Linked DNA regions of Homo sapiens: regions 2 and 3 are each linked to region 1. Evidence: fine-mapped expression QTL. A gene starts in region 1. Each other region holds a variant in brackets. All regions are shown on one strand. Distances are between the middles of the regions. Region 1 holds the start of SLC35A5 (solute carrier family 35 member A5). Region 2 overlaps ATG3 (autophagy related 3). Region 3 overlaps CCDC80 (coiled-coil domain containing 80).

What was found. PIP is the estimated chance that this variant, and not a neighbour inherited with it, causes the effect.
Region 2: its variant is the best candidate, but not a certain one, in a credible set for the expression of SLC35A5 in whole blood (INTERVAL, PIP 0.74).
Region 3: its variant is the best candidate, but not a certain one, in a credible set for the expression of SLC35A5 in T cells (TOPMed, PIP 0.89).

Annotation. Positions count from the first base shown.
Region 1 is chr3:112,557,556-112,565,838 of GRCh38, forward strand. SLC35A5 (solute carrier family 35 member A5) reads left to right here and starts at 4,490. Exons shown (of 7, transcript NM_017945.5): 1 at 4,490-4,718; 2 at 5,830-5,978. The coding sequence starts at 5,849. ATG3 (autophagy related 3) reads right to left here and starts at 4,407. Exons shown (of 12, transcript NM_022488.5): 1 at 3,902-4,407; 2 at 821-862. The coding sequence starts at 3,973. RefSeq lists enhancers at 3,169-3,978, 3,979-4,788, 6,409-7,218, 7,219-8,028.
Region 2 is chr3:112,536,816-112,544,815 of GRCh38, forward strand. It overlaps ATG3 (autophagy related 3), which reads right to left. Exons shown (of 12, transcript NM_022488.5): 6 at 7,242-7,291; 7 at 4,988-5,069; 8 at 1,331-1,365; 9 at 920-1,075. Among named protein-coding and RNA genes, the nearest start is that of ATG3, 21 kb to the right of the region's middle. RefSeq lists enhancers at 3,238-3,287, 3,368-3,457. The variant C/T (reference allele first, on the strand shown) is at 3,835.
Region 3 is chr3:112,598,245-112,606,527 of GRCh38, forward strand. CCDC80 (coiled-coil domain containing 80) reads right to left here. Exons shown (of 8, transcript NM_199511.3): 8 at 1-7,519. The coding sequence ends at 7,173. Among named protein-coding and RNA genes, the nearest start is that of CCDC80, 39 kb to the right of the region's middle. RefSeq lists an enhancer at 5,644-5,813. The variant C/T (reference allele first, on the strand shown) is at 4,332.

The DNA of each region.
Region 1 (8,283 bases):
TGCAGTGAGCCAAGATCGCGCCACTGTGCTCCAGCCTGGTGACAGAGGGAGACTCCGTCTCAAGAAAAAAAAATTAAAAAAACCACAAAGATTTGGAACTAGACAAATTCCATCACAACTGAAAATTGAAAGATCAGTTAATTCTCTAGCTCCACACCTTGGACCTTAACAGCAGCAGCCTTATCATAAAATAAGGCTTAAAACGTTTGTTTCAAAACAGTGAATAAAGTTCTATTGCCAAAAAGTGGTGTTTTCATTGGCAGAAAAAAAAAAATTCAAGCTTAAATAAATTGTCTCTTATTAAGAACAACCTAAGTCTGATAAAACCATAATTATTCATAAAATTGGAGCCTGAAAAGGTTTTTAGCCCAGTATTTACTTCTCCACCGACAACGAAATAGAACTCTTAAGAGAAAACAATATCTAAGTAGTAAGCAAAGTTTTCCAATGAAAAGCATGAAAACTCACATTTGATGTAAACAGAACCAAGACACCACAGACATTACAGAGCTTACTGCACAGCTCAATATAACACCAATACAAGTCAAGGATAAGTGACATAGGACTCATTTTGATCCCTTCTTTCACCCTCATTTCTAAATAAAGAGGAACTACAGAGAAATATGAGAAGTGGCAAACTGACGGGGAAGTTACATCTTTTCTTCTATGGGAAGTAGAAATTCCCATAAATCACAGTCATAAAACCTAATTTTACTCAAATCAAAATTAAAGTTCAAGATGTTTTCTTATGAAGCAGAAAAGCCACCTAGTTTAGTATTATTGTAAAATAAAAAGACTTCAGTATATCTTCAGCACTCACCTCTTCTGGGGTAATTACACCTGTTTCCTTAAACTTTGATTCCTAAAAAAAGCAGAAAGAAAAACAATATTATATCATGTTTCACTATCAATTAAATATATTTTGGGGGCAATTATTTGCCTGGTGCCCTTCTAGGCAATAGAGCACATACAAAAAAAAATTAGTCTATCTATCTAATCTATAATCTATCTAATCTACCTATCTACCTACCTCATTGGTATCTATCTATATCTATCTATCTGTTTCACTCACTGGTAATGACCACAGGAATATACAAGTCTAATGTAGGAAACAGACATGAAAATAATTATAATACTATCAGATCAGTGCTATAATAGAGTAAAGCTCTATGTAGAAACATTCTTTTTTTTTTTTTTTAAGATGGAGTTTCACTCCTGTTGCCCAGGCTGGAGTGCAGTGGCGCCATCTTGGCTCACGGCAACCTCCACCTCCCGGGTTCAAGCGATTCTCCTGCCTCAGCCTCCTGCCTGTAGCTGGGATTACAGGCATGTGCCACCATGCCCGGCTAATTTTTGCATTTTTAGTAGAGACAGGGTTTCTCCATGTTTGTCAGGCTGGTCTCGAACTCCTGACCTCAGGTGATCCACCCGCCTCGGCCTCCCAATGTGCTGGGATTACAGGCGTGAGCCACTGCGCCCGGCCAAGCTCTATGTACAAACATTCTAAGATTTAAATAAAAATAAAGCCTTACAGTGATTCTGTGAAATGAACAAATACCTTTATTTTACAGCACAGCAAAAATGTCTTAAAGATGTTTAGACATCTTACAATTCAGCCAGTCTTATTTAAACTGAATAATGTTAGAAACCAAATCTAGAAATTATTTAGCATTTTCCTCTAATTCTCATCTCCACCAAGATACTGACACACTATTCTCTAAATTTTTCTAAACTTTAAGTTATATGTAAGATTTTCTGGTAGAGTCTACAAAAATGAAAACACTCATTTATAAACATTATTCATTCAACAAATGTTTACTATGTGCCAGACACTATTTGAGGCAGTGGGGATATTTGGGGGTGAATAACATAAATACAAATTTATTCTTGCCCTCATAAGGAGTTTCAACTCCAGTTGAGGAAGAAAAGCCAAATGGTAATGAATAACATACCATAAAGAAAAATGAAGCTGAGAGGAATCTGTGGGGTGGCTGGGGAGAGATGGCCATTTAAAATAGAATGGTAAGAGAACAAAGACTTCACTGAATAATGACTTAAAAACCTTAAGGAAAGGAACATGCCATAAGGCTGTTAAGTGCGAAGCGCGTTTCAGATAGAGGGAAGAGCACATGCAAAACCCCAAACCAAGAGTGTGCTTAACAGAATAATAAAGAGATCAGGTTAGCTTAAGCAACAGCAGTCAGGGGATGGAGCAGATGAGATTGGGGCCTCTACCAATTAAGCAGAACCTTAGAGATGATTGTAAGAACTTCAGTGTTTACTGCATGTACATACTCCAAACAAAACATGATTTTTCTTAATTTTTACTTGCTAGGAGAAGGCTATTACTTATTTCCTGAGGATTTTGTTCTTTCTCCTTGCCCTCCCTAAGCAGGAAACTGTAAGGATTCTCTCTGTAAACAACAGTTTGCACAGGAGTATCAAGGAGACGGTCATTCATTCTTTCCTTTTTACTAAAGACATATACCATACATACTGACATGCCAACAGTTCCTTTTCAGTTTGGTGAGCAAGTATGATGGACTCCTGAAAACATAATTCTACATCATACATTTTATATTTCATTTGGGCAGTCTCTTGCTCCTCTCTCCCGGAAACTAAAAAGTTGTACAATGGTGTATTATTAAAATACTGTATACCTAGGTAGATATGATATTCTGAAAAGTTAACATAATTATGTAAAAGCATTTGATTCAAATGTGAAAATTATTTTCCAATCTTAGTTTGACTGAATAATCTTAAAATGACTTTCACAGTAAACAAATGTAAGCAAAGCAACAGTTGAAATTCTCATTTATAATCGCTGGTTTATTTCTTACTTGGCCAATAAGTTATTCTTTTAAAAGGAGCTTTACAAAAACGTATTTTAAAAAGTATAGACCTAGTACTTCCCTTTGTCATGGAAAGGGAGCAAAGCAAAACTCTCCACTATTCTTAGCATATTAAGGTATTTCACCCCCACACTGAGATTGGTACATTCTAACTGAAAGCTTAAAAACAACTAGAAAAAAAAAACAAAAACTAAGCAAGAACTTCCCATTAATTTACTATTCTTGCTCACTTTTCAGAAAGCAAAAATGAAGTTACAACAAAACACTCCAAAAGAGTTATAAAAGAAAAGCTTGAAGGCAGTTGTAGAAATTTACCTTTAAAAAAAAAATCAGTCACTACTGTAACAGCTAATGTGTCACAATTTTTTACTTTAAAAATGCTGTACTGTTGCCAATATATTTTTAAAAATTATACAGCCAGGAAGGTCAAACCGTGCCTTGTTATCACTAATAACCAGCTACGGCTATCTGAAAAGCTTGGGAAAAAGGTTTTGCTCGTTAGATGGGTTCAAGGTTACTGAATGAGATAATGTTGCCAATTTCACCTCCTTCCTCTGAAATCTAAACGAGTTGGGATCGCAGTCACAACTTCCCCACTACAGCGGACTTTCATGAAACTTAAAGGAAAAGTGACCTCACCTCAGGTCTCTTTTGACCTCTGTGTGTCAAACACTAAATTCATTTTTTAAAGAGAAGCAAAATCCTTGCTTAAAAAGGCTAAAAGACTTCCAGTGTTTGGATTTAACGTTCTTCAATCTACTCAGCCTCCGAACACCCTTCCAACCCGACGTACCCGACCGCGCAGAGTTATGACGGGAGAAGGCAGGAACACGCAGAGCGTCGCTCCAAGTTTACCCCTGAGGAGTCAGAAAGCCCTAACGAACAGCCGGTTAAGACTACGGGTGGGGGCTGCACACTTCCCTGTGTCTCGAGCCCTACTGCCTTCCTACACCTTGCCCCGCCGGAGAAAGCGGGGACTCCTGCGGCGCCTGGTCCCTGAAAAGTCGAGCATGTGCCTGACAGCTCCCGGCAACCCTGGCCTGGCTTACCTTGAGGACCGGGGTCAGGTACTCAGCCACTTCCAGTGCCTTTCCCTTCACAGTATTAATCACATTCTGCATCCTGGGGCCGGAGTAGCGGCCGGCCCCGCGACGGGATGGAAAGTGCAGCCGTGTCAGGGGCCAGGGAGTCAGAAAATGTCCTCGCTGCCACCGACTCGCATCAGCACCCGGCTGGCAGCACCCGAGGGGACGGGACGCGACGCGACGGGACGGGCGGGACGAGGGGGCGGGGCGGCAGGCACAGCGCGCGAAGACGGGGTGCGCGATCCTCGCACCCCAGGCAGCCCGCGACGGACCGGACCCAGCTGTCACCCAGCCGCGAGGGAGGGCAGCGGGGCCGAAGGGAGACCTGAGGTGAGAAGCGGACGCACACGCACCCCTCGCCCTCTGCGAGCTGTCTGTCCTCGCTTTGCTTCACTCGCGCCCCTTCCGGCTTCCCTTCCTTCTCACTCTCTTGCCGTAGCTGCGCCGCCACCGGGGCCTCACGTGACACTAGACTCTCCCGGCACGTGACGTGAGAAAGGGGCCGGGCTGGGGCGGGATAAGCCGCTTCTCCCCTCCTTCCGGAAGCGTAACACTGAACGTGCCTGCGCAATGGGTGTCGGGTCCGCTTTTTCCCAATCCGGACGTAATCGTGGTTTTTGTTCTGCAATAGGCGGCTTAGAGGGAGGGGCTTTTTCGCCTATACCTACTGTAGCTTCTCCACGTATGGACCCTAAAGGCTACTGCTGCTACTACGGGGCTAGACAGTTACTGTCTCAGCTCTAGGATGTGCGTTCTTCCACTAGAAGCTCTTCTGAGGGAGGTAACCGCGCCCCGCGGGCAAGGAATTGCGCCTGCGTCTGAGGGGAGGGTGCGCCAGTGAAGAGCCCTACTGCGCATGTGTGACTAGAAGGGTAGTCCCTGACTGTGAAGGGAAATCTGGCCCCCTCCTGTCGGGGAGGCGTCCTGTAGGCGTGCGCCCAATGGGGCTGTCAGTATTGGCATTTCTCCCCACTCCCCGCAGGCTCTATGCGCTATTCCTACAGTACGCTGGGAGGCTTTGGGCAAGTTACTTACCCAACCTGGGGTTTAGTGTCCTCAGCCTATCAAAAGAGGGCCTTAGATTCATTGATTTCTACGATCTCCTCCATTTCAAACACTAACTAGTTCAGTAAAACTTTACAGCAGTGTTTCAGATATTTCCATTTTGGTCGTTATTGTAATGAAGTCTGTCCTAATAAGCTTTTTCCTCCGAGGGAAAAGAGGAGGAAAATACAATTCTGAAAGCCTTATCTTACAGCAAAATTATTTACTAATAAGAGTAAAAGCGAGGCCGGGCGCGGTGGCTCACGCCTGTAATCCCAGCACTTTGGGAGGCAGAGGCGGGCGGATCACAGTCAGGAGTTCGAGACCAGCCTGGCCAACATAGTGAAACCCCGTCTCTACTAAAAATACAAAAATTAGCCGGGCGTGGTGGCGGGCGCTTGTAGTCCCAGCTATTCTGGAGGCTGACGCAGGAGAATCGCTTGAGTCCGGTAGGTAGGGGTTGCAGTGAGCCAAGACCGCGCCGTTGCACTCCAGCCTGGGTGACAGAGCGAGACTCCGTCTCAAAATACATAAATAAATAAAATTTAAAAATAAAATTCAAAATTGCTTTGAAGAATTCTTTTCTGCTGTTGCAAAGTGTCATTTGCTCACCTGCTACCTTTGTCAGCAGGTCTAATCTGGTTCTACGTTTTCTGTCTCCAGAGTACTCCCTCTTATCAGATTTTCACTTTCCTTTTGTCATAGTTTCTTTATGCCTCAACTTTCTTGGTGCTGATATAGTCATAGCCAAAATTTTTTAAAAATTCCTTTTTTGTCCTCACGATCAATGGTATTTGCGTTTAGGGTCTGCCAACAAGGTCGTTCATGAAAGTGTTTTTCTCTTTAAGGTAATTAAAAAACAGTGGAATGGAAAAACAGTGCTGTAGTCATCCTGTAATATGCTCCTTGTCAACAATGTATACATTCCTGCTAGGTGCCATATTCATTGCTTTAAGCTCAAGTCGCATCTTACTAGTGAAGTATTCTGCCAATGAAGGTAAGTTAAGACTTGGTATATGCATGGAGCACTTCCATCTAATCACACATCTCTCTCTTGCCTTTGGTTCTGTTATATATAACATGGAAATAATAATGCCTTTTGCTTCATGTGAGTGATAAAGCATATTTAAATTTGATTATTTAACCTTGCATTCCTCAACAAGAAAAAATGTTTGATAATGGATGAAATGTGAGTCAATCAGATACAAAAATCAAACCCTTTGGTGAAGAACCAGTCGTAACATTTGACTGTTAATTCAATCAACAGGTGTTTCTGGACCTATAGCAAAATGTGTAATTGCGCCTTATTTTGAAGTAGAAGGATATATTTGTTTGGTCACTTGGCATTTGTGAGGTACTTACTATTGTAATTATTGTATCAATGGTAAGGTGTCAGCATTATATTGTGCGGTCATATTGTATCAACAGTATAAATTATAAGCTTTGATAAGTATGTATTTAAGAAATCTTTTTTTATGTAGGGATTTAAGCAAACACTTTAATTCCACAAAACTGTATTGAGTACTTCTTACTAGTTATTGAGTGAAGGGGTGGGTTGCCCCTCCACATCTGTGGGTGTTTCTCGTTAGGTGGAACGAGAGACTTGGAAAAGAAAGGGACATAGACAAAGTATAGAGAAAGAAAAAAGGGGGCCCAGGGGACCGGCGCTCAGCACACGGAGGATCTCTGCCAGCCTCTGAGTTCCATTAGTATTTATTGATCATTATTGGGTGTTTCTCGGAGAGTGGGATGTGGCAGGATCATAGGATAGTAGTGGAGAGAGGGTCAACAGGTAAACACGTGAACAAAGGTCTCTGCATCATAAACAAGGTAAAGAATTAAGTGCTTTGCTTTAGATATGTATACACATAAACATTTCAATGCCTTAAAGAGCAGTATTGTTGCCCGCATGTCCCACCTCCAGCCCTAAGGCGGTTTTCCCCTATCTCAGTAGATGGAATATACAATCGGGTTTTACTCCGAGACATTCCATTGCCCAGGGACGAGCAGGAGACAGATGCCTTCCTCTTGTCTCAACTGCAAAGAGGCGTTCCTTCCTCTTTTACTAATCCTCCTCAGCACAGACCCTTTACAGGTGTCGGGCTGGGGGACGGTCAGGTCTTTCCCTTCCCACGAGGCCATATTTCAGACTATCACATGGGGAGAAACCTTGGACAATACCTGGCTTTCCTAGGCAGAGGTCGCTGCGGCTTTCCACAGTGTTTTGTGTCCCTGCGTACTTGAGATTAGGGAGTGGTGATGACTCTTAACGAGCATGCTGCCTTCAAGCATTTGTTTAACAAAGCACATCTTGCACAGCCCTTAATCCATTTAACCCTGAGTTGACACAGCACCTGTTTCAGGGAGCACAGGGTTGGGGGTAAGGTTACAGATTGCAGAACAAAATGGAGTCTCCTATGTCTACTTCTTTCTACACAGACACAGTAACAATCTGATCTCTCTTTTCCCCACAATTGAGGACACATACAATCATGATATGACCTTTAATGGTCTACTACTTGGAGAGTCAGATGTGTACCCAAGTCTCTACTGCAGTTAACATTTACCTGCCAGGCACTAGGCTAAGTATTAGCAGCAGGTTCAAAGTGCATAAGATATAGACCTTGTCCTCAAGACTTAGTTTATTAGGAGAGACATGAATGTAAACACATCATGAAAATCCATTATAATAACTGCAATAATTGATATATCCTGAAGATGCAGAGATTGTCTAGAGGATAAAGTTATATATTCTGTTTGGTAGGGGATGATGTGGAGTTCAAATGGATCAGAGAACACTTCGCTGATTAGAAGTCAGTTGATCCACTAGAAGTCAAGGTGAACAAGGGGATTCAAAACAGAGGCAACAGCCTGTAAAAGGGAACAGAGGCATAAAAAAGCAGGATATGTTGTGAGAATATGTAGTTTGAAATTACCAAGCAAAAAGTTTAAGGACTCGTAGCCAGGCACAGTGGCTCATGCTGTAATCCCAGCACTTTAGGAGGCCAAGGCCGGCGGATCACTTGAGGTCAGGAATTTGAGACCAGGCTGGCCAACATGGTGAAACCCATCTCTACTAGAAATACAAAAAATTAGCTGGGTTTGTTGGCGTGTGCCTGTAATCCCAGCTATGAGGGAGACTGAAGCAGGAGAATGAACCCGGGAGGCAGAGATTGCAGTGAGCCGAGATCATGCCACTGCACTCCAGCCTGGGCAACAGAGCAAAACTGTCTCAAGAAAAAAGAAAAAAAAAAGTTTAAGGACTCAGAAGAAAGAGAAGGAGTGGTTGGCTGGAGAGAGGT
Region 2 (8,000 bases), 21 kb before region 1:
GAGGCTGAGGCAGGAGAATGGCGTAAACCCGGGAGGCAGAGCTTGCAATGAGCTGAGATTGCGCCACTGCACTCCAGCCTGGGCGACAGAGCGAGACTCCATCTCAAAAAAAAAAAAAAAAAAAAAAAAAAAAAAAAAAAAAAAAAAGAAATTACTATTTAGAAACTTTCAGCCTAAATCTCAAGGTTTATAATATATTTAGTTCTCCATCTCACATCACTTGCAATTTAGAATTCTAGACTGTTTAGAATGATTTCTGGGAAATTTTACAATTTATTAATATCAAGGGAGGGACAGGAAGGAGTCACAGCCAAGCTCTGTGACAGCTACCCCCAATGCAGAAAAAAAATCTCACAAAAAGACAAGTTTGTGGCTATCAAAACATTTTATAACTTTGTGGCTCATCTTTTAGACTGACTTTATTTTCTTGTTTCCCATGTATAGCCATAAGAATGACAGGTTAAACAAGTTGATTTCCTGTCAATTATCCTTTAATTCAATTAAGTAGATGAGTTTTCTGTCTTAAGGGGAAAAATACATACATACAACAATCCACTCTCTTCACATGTGACATGGTCATTCTGTAAATGCCTATATATCCAACTGATGTAATCCCAAACAAAATTTAATAAAATAAACCAAGTTAAATTTCCCTCACATTTTGAAGGCATAAGCCTTCAAAAAAGGAATATGTAATAGATTATTTCTGTTTATGTCTTAGCATTATTGTTACACTGAATAATTCATAGTTCATTCAAAATAAGAAAGAATCAAGTTCAACATTAATCATAAAACTGTAAAACAGATGATTTCCAAAATGTGAAACACTGCAATAAATACTCATGGACCTAATGAAGAAGAAATTAAAACCCAACAATTTAAAATATTGATATTAAAATATAATGCTTTTCATTTTTACCTCATCATAGCCAAACAACCATAATCGTGGAGTCTGGTAATATTTATCATAAGTGATGTAAAGGTCATAAGTTCTGGTTTGCAAAATAGCATCTTCACCGCCAGCATCAGTTTTGGCTTTACAAGCTTCTACTATTTTCCTTGTATCTAGGGTAGCCTGAAAATAATAAAAGAGAAAAATTTACAACCATTAAATCGGTATGAATGTGACATTCTAGAAAACTTATTTTTTCCATTCTATATTTTGTTTTCTTAAGAGTAAATGAACTTGGAACTCAAAGCTACGTTTTATATGCTATAATCAATATGAACAAATTAGAATGTCTTTGAAAGATCAATATATTATTAGTAAGAACATGCATCCCCAAGTTCATCCATTAAAAATTAACTAAAGAAAACTCAATTTACAAACCTCATCTGTTTCCAACAATCCACTCTCTTCATATTCTGTTATAAAAAAACAACAAAAGATTAATCAAGTTCAAGTTCAAGAAAATTCCCTAAACCAATTTAAGTATTACTTCATAGTATCATTCAAAAACTGGGGTTTTGCCTTTGTTTTTAAGTGAAGATATTGAATAGATAGATATAAGTGAGCTAATTCTATACTTCCAAAGGCGAAAGCCCAGAGAAAGCCAGCATGTTTAAGGCTTGACATAATAATACTGTAGAGTCCTCAGTGGCTCCACAGTGTACACAAGCCTACTTCTGTAACTGCGTAGTCATCGGTGACCTCTTCTTTGCTGAATCCAGTGGTAAATTCCCAGTTTTCATCTTAATTGACCTATCAGGAACATGTGGCATGATTTAGTCCCTTCTCCTTGGAACATACTTTCTTTCCTTGGCTTTTAAAATATTTTCCTGGCTTTCCTCCCTCATCACTGAGTGCTGTTTCAGTATCTTCTATGCTGGTTCCTCTTCATCACCTCTACTTTAAAAAGAACCATAAAATCAAACGCTGCAGTAACCAAGGGCTCAGTTTCTGGACCTTGTCTCTCCTCTAACCACACTTATTTCTGTAACGATTTCATCCAGACTCAATGACTTCAAATACTGATGACTTTCAAATTTATTCCCTGCCTGCGGACTTGGATTATTTATTTTACGTCTCTACTAAATAACTAATGAACACTGCAAATATCACATGTCTGAAACTGAGTTCCTGACTCCCTCTCCAAAGCTAATCACTTTTGATTTTTCCACATCTCAGTTAATGGTATCTTTCTAGAAGCTCAGGTCAAAAACCTTGGAGTCACCCTTGACTATTCCACTTGTCACATATGACATCCAATCCAGCAGCAAATCTCTTTGGCTCAACCCTCAAAGTATTCCAGCATTCTACTGTTTCTCATCCCTACCAATGTTACGACCCTAGCCCAAGCCACCATCATTTCTTGCCTAGATTATCAAACAGCCTCCTGTTGTCCCTTTCTCCCTTCAGTCTATTCTCACCACTGCACAGTGATTCTGTTGAAATGTCACTCCTCTACTTGAAAAACAAACAAACAAACAAAACCCTCCAATGGCTTGTCTCACTCTGAGTAATGTCAAGACCTTATAGAATCTGGTCCCTGGTTACCTCTCTGACTCCACCCTTTACTACTCTCCCTTCTCTCCTATCTGGACATAAGCATACCTTACAATATTTTACATAAGCCAAACGTGTTCCCACCTCAGTACCTTTGCACTCTTCCCTCAAATACCTAGTTTCATTCACTTCCTTCCAGGCTTTATTTAAATGGCGTGTACTTTCAATTAGGTTTTTCTTGACCAATTTATTTAAAAATTGCAATACTCATTCCCACCCCAAGATTCTCTAACCCCTTTCTTCCTTTATTTTTTCCTTAACACTTATAACTAATACTGTATATATTTTGCTTATCTATTTTTTGTCTCCACTGATTAGAATATAAACTCCATGAAATCATGTCTACTGCTTTATCTCCAACACCAAGGACAATACCTGATAAATACTGTACTGCCCAATAAATATTTGTTCAATAAATGAAAATTACCTTTATATTAGATACCATTAACACAACTGTTGAGCAAAATTACATATATAGCAATTCTTTAACTCTATCTAGGGGGAATATAATAAACATACTAAATGACTATCAGATATTTAAGGCAATCCCACAGCTTGTACTTTGAAAACAGTGCTTTACTCGAAGGGTTCTATGCTACCCCACCACCCCAACTTGGTCAACTATGTCATTCAGAGACAGATGAAATTCAGAAACAATATTTGTCCAAGAAAGTGATGTCAGTTTCTGACAACTATGAGACATCCAGGGGGAAATGAAACTGAAATACATCTGAAGTTGAGAATATCTAGGCTACCTCTAGATATGGAAGTCCCTAGCATACAGATGGTATGTGAGGCTGCTGTGATCAATTTTGGTTACAAGTAATTCATTCAGATTTCCTTAAGGAACAGCAGTTTACCATGAAAATAAGGACAAGAATCTCACTAAAATTTAGGAACAGACATAGCTAGGTTTCATGGGGAATTGAAAGTAATTTTGAAAACAAACAGAAAGGTACTTTTGATCTAGCAAGCATCACTTGCCATTATGGTGTTTCAACTCTACTTGGCACCATCTTCTACTTCTGCATGCTACAAAACACAATCTATCTCACTCTAAAGTCTATGTATTTTTGGCATTCAGCTGCCTTACAGCCTTCAATGCCTGCCTTTTTTTCATATTCCTTTCCTTTTTCCAACTTCTTACACATGCACCCTATTTACATATATAAATATATTCATATTTCAACTCTCACAAAGTACTGGATGTAATTTATACTCTATCTTTCTTGTTGCACAAATTTTCATGCCAAACTACAGAATGCCATTATAGAAGAAAAAATCTGGGAGTACAGAGAGTAAGCAAGGGGAAAAAAAAAAGAAACCCA[C/T]GGAACAGTAACATTTAATAGCTGAGGGAAAGAAAAAGAATCATAGAAGATGACTAGAAGAAAGAGTCCAGGAAAGAGTAAGAAAACCCAGTGTTATAGAAACCAAGAGAGAAAAAAAAAAGAGGAAGATATGGTTAACAGAATCAATGCAGAAAAGGTAAGTGTAATAAAGATAAACTGGATTTAACAAAGAGGTCACCCTGGTGACAGCAATTTTTTCATCTACTTTTAAATATCTGAGGTTTCAAATGTATTGAAAAAGATTATCATGCTCATGAAATACAAAGCTTTGAATAACCATGTGCTCACAGACCCATACTGCTCTGTTCTAGTGGGTTTCTCTCTCTTTTAAGAATGATTCACTAATGCAGTGATTCTCAACTGGCAACTCTAGGAGGAGGACTTTTCAGAATCTTGGGAAACTGATGGGATTCTGTGTAGTTCAAAAGGCCCCATTAGCCAAGCACAGTGGCTCACACCTGTAATCCCAGCACTTTGGGGAGGCCGAGGTGGGCGATCATGAGGTTAAGAGATCGAGACCATCCTGGCCAACATGGTGAAATCCCGTCTCTACTAAAAATACCAAAATTAGCTGGGTGTGGTGGCATGCACCTGTAGTCCCAGTTACTCAGGAGGCAGAGGCAAGAGAATCACCTGAACCTGGGAGACGGCGGTTGCAGTGAGCAGAGATCGCACCACTGCACTCCAGCCTGGCGAGAGTGAGACTCCGTCTCAAAAAAAGAAAAAAAAAAGGCCCCATTGAAACTCACTATCTTCAGGTTTTAATAGAAAGATGCTATCAAAGAGGGAAAAGAAAATACAAAATGCATAATAAGCAAACTTTGTTCTGCTCTGAAATAATTCAGTTAGGAATTAATATCTTGCAGCCGTATCCAGTATTAAATATTTATGACTAATAGTTATTCCAATAAAAATGATATTGTCCAAGACTATGTTTGGAGTAAAATAGAAGAGTCCAAGATCAAGATAAGTTTTACACTAATGAAATTTATGAACTAAACATATATAAAACACTCACTAGGCTGCTAAATGCTAAACTTACAACTCAATGAAGAATTCTTAATCCACATAAATTACAAATATTCTAAATCAATATTCTAGTGGAACTGAAGCAAATCTAGAACAGGAATACCTTCCATATCTGCAGCTTCTCCTTCATCTTCATCTTCTTCCTCTTCACATAGTGCTGAGCAATCTTGAAGCCTTATATTGTCCTTTGAAATTAATTATATTTAAAATCACTTAAGTATATACATTAATTTGAACACTGAACACCCATGTGCTAGCACAGTGGTAACCACTGTGAAAATAAGAATGACAAGGCAGTTCTTGTCCACAAAAACCTTAAACTCCAATGAAGATAATGAATTCATATATCAGTCATTAAAAGTAACGTGCTAAGTGCTGTGACTGAAAAATAACAAAGGTTATTATGGGAGCAGTAAGAGTCATCTAAGCTATTTAAAAATAATTGCCAGTTGCACTTCCAATAAAACAGTATTTTTGGTTAATCAATTCATTAGTATTAGAAAATCAGTTCAAAATTATATTAACTTGTGCACTTATAAGGGGAAAAAGTGCACATATCTGTAAATCAAATATAAGCTAAAATATAAATCAAACACTATTACATTCTAATTTGTTAACAATATCTTAGCTGAATTAGGCAAGTTATCAGACTTTACAGTTATTAAAATGCACAAGATATCAGTTCAATTTCTTAACTATATTAGCTCTAAAGTGAAAGAATATTGATGGACAGGTTTAACATCTGGGTATCGTTTTCACAAAATTAATATTCTGAAAATCTGAAGTCAACATAATAAGTGGATAAACTGAATATTTAGTTTTACCTAGGTTACATTTTACTTAGGGGTGGTTTAATTTAACACTAGAAACTTAAGTCATATGTTTAAAACTTAAATCATTCTTACACCCAAAATTGAAACCACAAAACCACAAAACCATCAGTGTCGGAGTAATTATTATATGAGCTAATATTTAACAAATTAATCATTAAGAAAAAGTTTCATCATATTGGTGATATTTATACTTGATAAAGTAGAATAGAAATTGACAACCAAGATTAATACTTCTGCTTGGATGGCAAGTATTCTAAGTTACAAAAAATACTAAAGGAATTACCATAAGCCCGTCCAAGAAAAACACTACTATCTACACTACTGTGCCATTTATCATTCCCAAAGTCTGAAGCATATATAGTAATGGTCAGAGTAAACAAGATCTTCTAAAACAGCAAAGCAATTTGTGTTATTTCTCCGTAAGTCATTCAAACACTCCAAAAAGTCTAATTTCAAAATGATGAATTCTCAGGCCAAAGAACTAAATCTTAAAGCATAAAACTGTAAATAAAAAAACAAAACAAACAAAAAAAAAACTTGTCTTCGTTTCTATCACTTTCTGTTAAGCCCCAGTAACAAATCTAGAAAGATCCAAATGACAAAAACACACAAAGAATATCTTTAGTAACTGTTGTAGCAAAAGTGTCATAAGACTAGGAACACAATTATTCCATTCAAATAGTCTATCCTCTAAGTGATTTGATGGTTAAAAAAATAATTAAGACAAGGGTGAAAGCATTTTATATTATTTTTTCATATCATTTCAAACAACTACAGGTATATAAAAACATGAAGACAACTGCGGTTGATCTCTCTGAGAAATGAAAAGCTAATCTAATACCTACAACAGCCTAAAATAACTCAAAATTTCCAAGCAAAAAAACTCTACCCAATTATGTTTTACCCCCATAAATCATGCAATAAAACTTAACAGATTAAGCTTCTATTCATTCAAAATGTCATGAATTTGAATGATGCAAGCTAAAGTTTGCTTTCAAATTTTCAAAAACAAATAAACCCCAAATTACCAGTAATTGAAGAAAATACAGAGAGAATGATTAAATTGCTTATGGCACTATTTAAGCTATAAAATTTAAATGTTAATATATCATTAGCATCTACTAGTAAGCAAGTAGTTAATTCCACCCCAACATTCTCCACTTATATGACATTTGGTACTAAATACATTTTAAAACAAAAAAGTCATCTCTTTTAAACTAGCCTAGAAGTTGCTCCAGTCAGTGAAAATTAGTAGTTTGTACAAGTTACAATCTAAAAGCTGTTTTACTTAACCATACTACAAATTAAGGAAAATAAGAGATGCATTAGGCAGCAGTAGTGTTTTGGTGTGTTGAGACAGAAAAATGAATGGGGAAGAAAACAGCTGGAATTTAAAAGAGCTTGATAATAAAAAACCAGGGTTTTTATAAGAAAGATATGGTGATTATATATGTGTGTGTATAGATAGATAGATAGGCAAATAACTACTCATTAAATTTAAAAATATAACTAATTAACCAGTACCTTATTTTCCAGTGTGATCTCTTTAACGGCTTCCGTTATTCCTGTAATACCTATGTAAAATTCGGCAGAAAAGAATAACTAAAATTAAACTGTAAACACCCTATTTACTTATTAAAGCAATATAAAAATGCTGAAAATTCTCACAATTTCTCTGAAATAAGGAGGCAAATAATAGTAGTATCTTTACAAATGAACTCTAATGAGAATAGTCACAATGGCACCTCCTCAAATTTTGAAAAACTCATTAATATTTTACCATGAATTACTTTCCTTGTTTGAATCTCTATCACAACACTTTCTGAGAAACAGAACAGTTTGGCCAGGTGCGGTGGATCACGCCTGTAATCCCAATGCTTTGGGAAGCTGGGGCGGGTGGATCATCTGAGGTCGGAAGTTCAAGACCAGCCTAGCCAACATGGTGAAACCGTTTCTACTAAAAATACAAAAGTTAGCTCAGCGTGGTGGCGTGTGCCTGTAGTCCCCGCTACTTGGGAGGCTGAGACAGGAGAATCGCTTGGACCCGGAAGGTGGAGGTTGCAATGAGCCGAAATCGCACCATTGCACTCCAGCCTGGGCGACAAGAGCGAAACTCCGTCTCAGGGAAAAAAAAAAAAGGAAAGACAAGAGTTTAAAAAAACTACAGGACTCGTATGTACATTTTAATTAAACTTGCATCAAAATTTTCTCAAAAAGCTATTAGTTATCTTAATATAGGCTGATTATCCCTTATCTGAAGTGCTTGGGACCAGAAGTATTTCT
Region 3 (8,283 bases), 41 kb after region 1:
GCTTGTCTACAGCAGGGACTGGCTGTCTTCCAGAAATGGTTTCCCAAGGTGTTCCCTACCTCTCTTTTTCTTGGATATCTTTTTGCATTATAGATAGCCTTGGGAAGGGTGTCACCTTTATCCTATCAGTTCCACCTAATCAACTGTAGTCATCTGAGAGCCAGAATTATTATTGATAGAGGGGCCTGGGAAAGGAGAAAAGGACCAGGAGAGAGGAAGGTATACTTATTGCAGAGGAGAAAAGCCAAAGAACGTTTGCCCATGGGCAGTCTTAGCTATTTAAAATCACCCACTTCTTCATCCGGCTCCCTTGGCATATGTATCAGCCCATGGATTGGGAGGTGTAGGACCATTCTTTTTCTTTCTGGAAGGAAAGCACTGACATTTAAGCTCTGTGCGGTCTGCTCAGGGGCTGCCCAGTTTGTCCAAGCTTTAGGATATTAGAGAGATTACGCATTTGTGGTCTCAAGTTAGGAAACTGTTGAAGAACAAATATGTCCCTTATTAGAGGGCCTCTTTAGATGTTTAGGGTACTCACAATCCTTGCCAACCTGATGTCCTTGGAAGCTCCAGTCTGGCTGTAAGGAGATGATGAGGGGTTCTGTGTGTTGGAGGTGATGACCTCATTGAGTCTCAGCCACAGCAGGGCATTATGCAGGAAAGAATTCAATGGAGTTATTTAATACCTTTCCCTATTCCCACAAAAATCTGGAACTGGGTTCTGAACTGAGAAGTCTGGGTTCCCTGAGAATTGGACATCAGTTCAACCACAGGAAGCCTCTAAATTTAGCACTCTACTCACAGAGGGCCAAGAAAAATTCACAAATGTCACAAACTTAGGAACTTAGGTATCTAGTCTTCTCTGTCATTTTGTAATGAGAAACTGAGGCCCATAGGTAAAACATCTCACCTCCAGTCACACAGGTAAGTACATGGCAGGGCAAGGACAGGCACCCAGTTTTCCCAAGTCCAGTGGCCTTTTCATGATACCCATTTCTGTGTATCATTTCATTGATTTCTGTGACAGCTGGCCCTTTGCCCCTCATCACCAAATCTTAACTCTTTGGACTTTAATAATGTGCAAAATTAAGAGGAAGTCTGGCATCGGGAGCTTTACACAACTCAGAGAGAACTGAGGAAAGTAGTTAGCATGTTAACTGTGCCTCACCTTGACCTGAAGTGAAGAGCACTCACCAAGCCACAACCTGCTATCTGCACACCCCACACCATGAGGTAAAGGACAGCCAAGGAAGAGAAAGGAAAGAAAAGCAATCCGGCAGGGAGATCAGGGAGCGAAACGAACAGAGAAACGAACAGAGGTTTTTTCCAAGGGCCTTCTATTTTTCTACAATCTCCACACATTCAGTACTGAGACACATTAAGAAGGGCCCACTGAGGCCATCATTCACCCTACTCTCGGGCTGCTTCCATCCTCCAGGCTTCTAGAAGTTGAGAAAGTATGAGCTTCATTGTTAATTATATTACAGAAAATGGGACCAGCTGGGTTGCACCCACTCCCCTGTGTCTGGACCTCCTGCCTATGTAGCAGAAAAGGATCTTTCTGCTGAATTAATATTCACCTCAGAGCCCTGGGAGATGTCTGATGAAAAGTAGTTTTTGAAGAGTCTTGTGACAACCAGCAATTTCGGCAAAGCTATGTCCTCAAGAGTCTTCCAGATTTCCCCAACTCTACAGAATGCTTTTCTTTTTAAATACCATAATCCCATAATCTTTCTCAAAAATTATAAAACTGTATTTTATTTTTCTCATTTATTTGGGAGTTTGGTAAGAAACGTTTGGGAAGAAATGCTTTTATGGAGAAACTACTCAGATTTGAAACTACCTAGTTTATACTACCAGAAGACAGAGATTCAGGTTAGCTAGTTTGCTAATCCTCACAGTTTCAGAGATATGCCTTGTATTTTTCCAGATTATAGGCTTTGAGGACATTCACCAATAGCATCCTCCTCTGAATGTATTTTGGTCCTTTTGCTAAGCTATGTCTTATTTTATAGTCCTCCAAATGATGATCTATGACTTCTCTGCCTGCTCATTAGAGGAAGAAAAGCTCAGATGCATTGCTAACTATTATTTCAATGCCAGTGGAACTGGAGAAATGCTTGAAAAAGTAATCTCAGGTTGTAAAAAAGAACTATCTTTTTTTGGTTGCAGGAGCTAGAACCCTATTATTCTGAGAGTAAATTTTCTATTATTCCTATCTAATTCATTTTCTTGGGAGATGAAACTCCCTCTTTTTTTTGGTGGGGAGACAGGGTCTCACTTTGTCACCCAGGATGATGATGATGGAGTGCTGTGGCACGATCACGGCACACTGAAGCCTCGACCTCCTAGGCTCAAGCGATTCTCTCACTTCAGCCTCCTGAATAGCTGGGACCACAGACACACACCACCTTACCCAGCTAATTTTTTGTATTTTTTTGTAGAGACAGGGTTTTGCCGTGTTGCCCAGGCTGGTCTCGAAGTCCTGGGCTCAAGCGACCCGCTCACCTTGGCCTCCCAAAGTGCTGGGATTACAGGTGTGAGCCCCTCACTGCTCCTGGCTCCCTCATTATTATATTTCCTGAAGTTGACATGATTTGGGTCCTTTACTTAGAAATTGTCATCACACAATTTCAGAAAGGTAAAGAAATCCATTTTTATTGGCAACTTTGGGCTATGCTTCATCCTGGCAAAAATTTAAAAGCAGTACACTTCGACGTGGCTCACTTTCCTGCACACCTCAGGCAGCTTGTACAGACTATCCAAGAAAAAATGAGGAGGAAAGTGCTCCATCAAGGAAGAGGGATGAGATGGGAGCATAATTCACACACTAAGAACTGAGTTCTAAAGTCACTTGAGCTTTCTGGAGCTCAGTTACCTGTAAAACAAGGAAGAATGAATGGTCTTTATGGAAAATGAATGGCAGAATAAGTGATTTGTCAAGTTCATTGAACTATAAATTCCATTTTTACTGTCATTTATTTATAACAAAGTTCAGATATAAAGAAAAATCTGAACATACAGTAGGCACAGATAAACCTATAGCAAATATTCACATGTGGTTTGAATGCATTTATTAATCTCTGTACTTATTAGAATTAATAATAATACTAAAATGATTTGGAGAATTAATGATTAATAACAGTGGAAAATAGCCTTCCCATTATTGTTAGAGGATGGTGCCATCATGATGCTAAATGCCTATCTGAGGGGAAGCTCATAAATATTACTTGACAATATTACTTGATAAATATTTGTTGAAAAAAGAAATGTAGTAAAGAAGCAAGGATGGCTGGGCATGGTGGAGCATGGCTGTGGTCCCAGCTAACTTGGGATGCTGAGGTGGGAGGATTGTTTGAGGGAAGCTGAGTTTGCAGTGAGCCAAGATTGCACTACTGCACTGCAGCCTGGGTGACAGAGTGAGACCCTCTCCAAAAAAAGAAAAAAAAAAAGAGAAAAAAAAGAAGCAGCAGCAACGAAAGGAGGGAGGAAGGGAGAAAGTTTACTTTGATATGCCATATGATTGAAACAAATGCTCTTTTTTCAAAGACAAGGATTATACTCCTTTGCATTCCAGCTACTTTGGTCCATTGTAACTTGGTAACCTTTGCCTTGAAAACAAAAAGAATCCCTGGATATAATCTCCTTCCTTGTAATTTTTTTTATAAGATGCCAGTATGGTAATAGGTCCATTAGCAAGTAAGTACAGGCACATCTTATTTTATTATACTTCTCAGATACTGCATTTTTTACAAATTGAAGGTTTGTGGCAACCCTGCATCAAGGAAGTCTGTTGACATCATTTTTGCAATAGTATGTACTCACTTTATGTCTCTGTGTCACATTTTGGTAATTCTTGCCATATTTCACACTGTTTCATTATTATCTCTGTTATTAAAATCTGTAGTCAACGATCTTTGATGTTGCTATTATAATTACTGGGGGCACCATGAACCACACTTATATAACACAGTAAACTTAATAAATGTGTGTATGTTCTGATTGCTCCAACAACCAACCTTTCTCCAATCTTTCTCCTTCTTCTCAGGCCTCCTTAGTCCCTGAGACACAATATTGAAAGTAGATCAATTAATAACCCTAAAATAGCCTCCAGGTATTTCAAGTGAGAGGAAGTTGCAATCTTTCACTTTAAATCAAAAGCTAGAAATGAATAAGCTTAGTGAGGAAGGTGTGTCAAAAGCTGAGACAGGCTGAAAGCTAAGCCTCTTATGCCAAACAACCAAGTTGTAAATGCAAAGGAAAAGTTCTTGAAGGAAATTAAAAGTGCTACTTTGTGAATGCATGAATGATAAAAAAGTAAAACAGCCTTA[C/T]TGCTGATATGGAGAAACTTTGAGTCATCTGAATAGAAGATCAAGCCAGCCACAAAATTCCCTTAAGCCAAAGCCTAGTTCAGAGCAAGGCCCTAACTCTCTTCAATTCTATGAAAGCTAAAGGGAGGTGAGGAAGCTTCAGAAAAAAAGTTTGAAGGTAGCAGAGTCTGGTTCATGAGTTTGAAGAAAAGAAGCCTTGTGCATCCATAAAAGTGCAAAGTAAAGCAGCAAATGTTGATGTAGAAGCTGCAGTAAGTTATCCAGAAGATCTAGTTAAGATAATTAATGAAAGTGGCTACACTAAACAATAGATTTTCAAAAGAGATGAAACAGCCTTATATTGGAAGAAGATGCCATCTCAGACTTACGTATCTAGAGAGGAGTAGTCAATGCCTCACTTCAAAGCTTCAACCAACAGGCTTACTCCTTGTTAGAAGTTAACGCAGCTGGTGATTTTAAGTTGAAATCAATGCTCATTTACCATTTCCCCAAATCCTACGACTTTTCAGAATTATGCTAAATCTAATCTGCCTGTGCTCTATAAATGGAGCAACAAAGCCTGAATGACAGCATGTCTATGGACAGCATGGTTTACTGGACATTTTAAGCTCACTTTTTGAGTCTTACTGCTCAGAAAAAAAAAGAATCTTTTAAAAATATTGCTGTTCGGGCCGGGCGCAGTGGCTCATGCCTGTAATCCCAGCACTTTGGGAGGCCGAGGCCAAAGTCAGTAGTTCGAGACCACCCTGACTAACATGGTGAAACCCCATCTCTACTAAAAATACAAAAATAAGCTGGGTGTAGTGGTGGGCGCCTGTAAATCCAGCTACTCAGGGGTCTGAGGCAGGAGAATCACTTGAACCCCGGAGGCAGAGGTTGCAGTGAGCCAAGATCGCACCACTGCACTCCAGCCTGGGTGACAGAGCGAGACTCCATCTCGAAAAAAATATATATATATATAATATATATTATATATTTTATATATGTATATAAAATATATATATAAATGATCAGTTCCAGACCACTATAATATATATATATATAGCTGTTCACTGACAATATACCCAGTCACCCAAGAACTTGGATAGAGATATACAAGGAGATTAATATTTTCGTGCCTGCTAACACAATACCTATTGTGCAGCACAGGAATCAAGGAGTCATTTGCACTTTTCGTAAGACTATAACTGTCACAGATTGTGATCCCGCTAATGGATCTGGGCAAAGCAAATTAAAAACCTGGAAAGGATTCACCATTCTAGATGCTGTTAAGAACATCGTGATTCATGGGAGAAGGTCAAAATAGGAAGATCAATGAGTTCGGAAACTGATTCCATCCCTCATGGATGATTTTAAGAGGCCCAAGACTTCATTGGAGGAAGCTCTGCTATAGACATAGTGGAAATAGCAAGAGAACTGGAATTAGAAGTGGAGCCTGAAGATGTGACTGAATTGCTGCAATCTCATTACAAAAGTTTAATAGATGAAGACTTGCTTCTTATGAATGAACGAAGAAAGTGATTTCTTGAGATGGAATCTACTCGCGTAAGTTGCTATGTACATTATTGAAATGACAACAAAGGATTTACAACATTACATAAATTTCATTAATAAAGCAGCAACAGGGTTTGAGAGGATTGGCTCCAATTTCAAAAGAAGTTGTACTACTGGTAAAATGCTATCATACAGCATCACATGCTGCAGAGAAATCTTTCATGAAGAAAAAGTCAATCGAAGTGGCAAACTTCATTGCTGTCTTATTTTAAGAAATTGCCACCATCACCCCCAACCTTCAGTAACCACCACCCTGATCATTCAGCAGCCATCAACATCAATGCAAAAAGATTATGATCATTAGCAATTTTTAGCAATAAAGTATTTTTAAAATAAAACATGTACATTTTTTGGACATAAAGCTATTATACACTTAATAGACTACTAAAGAGTGTAAACATAACTTTTATATGCACTGAGAAACCAAAAATTTTGTGTGACTCACTTTATTGCGATATCCACTTTATTATGGTGGTCTGGAACTGATCCTGTAATATCTCCATGGTATGCCTGTGCTGTACAGGGGGTAAAGTGTGAGGGGTCAAGAATTTTCATGCCAGAAATTCCATAGCAGCCTACTAGAACTCTGGAAGTATCGCCTTTGGCTGCAGTGCCAGATTCTGGTGAGGATTTCCTGGACCCCGATTTATATCTGAAAAAACACTAAAAATAACAGAAGCAGGGCAGGAAGTGGCTATGATAACAAAGCTGGGCTTGGTACTTTCTCTGGCTTTTGTGGCCAATATTACTGGACTCCCGTGGTATCAAGTTTCATAAAAGAAACTCATACAAAGCAGAGATATCTTAATTATTTTCAGACTGGCATTTCAAAAAGTGTCAATTTAAGTAAGTATTATAAGTTATTTGTTCTTTGTTTTATCTTTTCAGATGTTTCTTGAAAACATTGTGGTGTGATCTTTAACAGAGTTTTCACTTACCAATTAATACAAAAAATAAGAAAAAGCTTTAAATACATATTTTATAAAATTTTATATGCCAAATAAGGTCCTTCATATAAGAAAAGGAAAATAATATCAATTTTCAGTACTATTATTTAGCACTAGAGCCCCTCCAGTTAGAAAAACAATTCTTTTAAATGTCTTTATGATTTGAGGTTTCAATAATAACTCATGAATAGGTGAAAGTTTGCTATTTATTTAGTCTTAGAAAAACACTGAAAGAAAAAGGCAGGAAATGTAGTACGCAGTGTGGAAGAATGGAGCTGGCCACATGTAGTTTTAGCAGCTGCAGAGGAAACTGGCTGAGTCTAAGGTTACATATTTCTGCTCAGTAAGGGTATCCATGGTGATAACTCTCATGATGACGGTAGTCATCCTGGTAACCATCCTGGTATCCTTGGTGGTAACTATGGTAACCATAGCCTGCATACTCATCTTCTGGGCAGCGCATCCCCAGTGACTGCTGAATCGCCATTTCCTGTCTCCGAAGTTGCATCGAATCAATTAAATCGTACACAATCACCATGGACCACATTGGGGAAGGATACCAGGATTTGACATTTCCGTCTTTTCCGACTAGAAGCATGGAGAAGTACTCCGGGCTCACTTGAAAATAGTTACGAATGTCTTTCACCAAATGGGCTGGTACGTCTTCTCGCTCAACAACAGAGCTCCCTAGAATAACATTGGAATAGTTATTGTTAGTAGATTAAACAGTCAGAGCCCATGAAAACATTAAAGTGTGAGGAAATTACTGTGAGAATAGGGAGGACCCATGAGCCTCTTCTCTTTAGTTCAAAATCTAATTAAAGAAGTTTGCTGGGGCTTTTTCTACTAGAAATTAAATGTCCCTGCTTTCTGCAACACGATTAGGGTCAAACTTTGGGGCACTCGATGTGTCTTTTGTAGGAATGTTACAAAGTATAAAACCAATTCCTTAATTTAATCCTGGCAAGACTAATTTCTTTAAAATTTGTCACTAACAAGGATTATATAGTTTATCTTTCTAAGTTTATTTCCAATTAGCTTAGTTACTTCTCTGTAACTACAGCTTACCTTTTGACACATCTTAATGATAAAAAGCTTATTTCATTGTTAAAAGTGAAAATATCAATTCTGTTAAGATCTAGAGGAATATTTAAACTATTGTGAATAGTGAAAAGAATAGAGGGGAAGGAGAAAAGGAGCTGACACTTTCAAGTCTGCTGTGTCCGGCATTCTGCCAAGTATTTTACACACATTATTTAAAGAGCTTGGTCTTGGAAGAAAGGACTGGATTTGCTTTCTGAAAACTTCAGTCAAGAGTCTTTTTTTGTTTTGTTTTGTTTTGTTTTGTTTTGTTTTGTTTTGTTTTTGAGATGGAGTCTTGCTCTGTCACCCAGGCTGGAGTGCAGTGGTGTGATCTCGGCTCACCGCAATCTCCACCTCCGAGGTTCAAG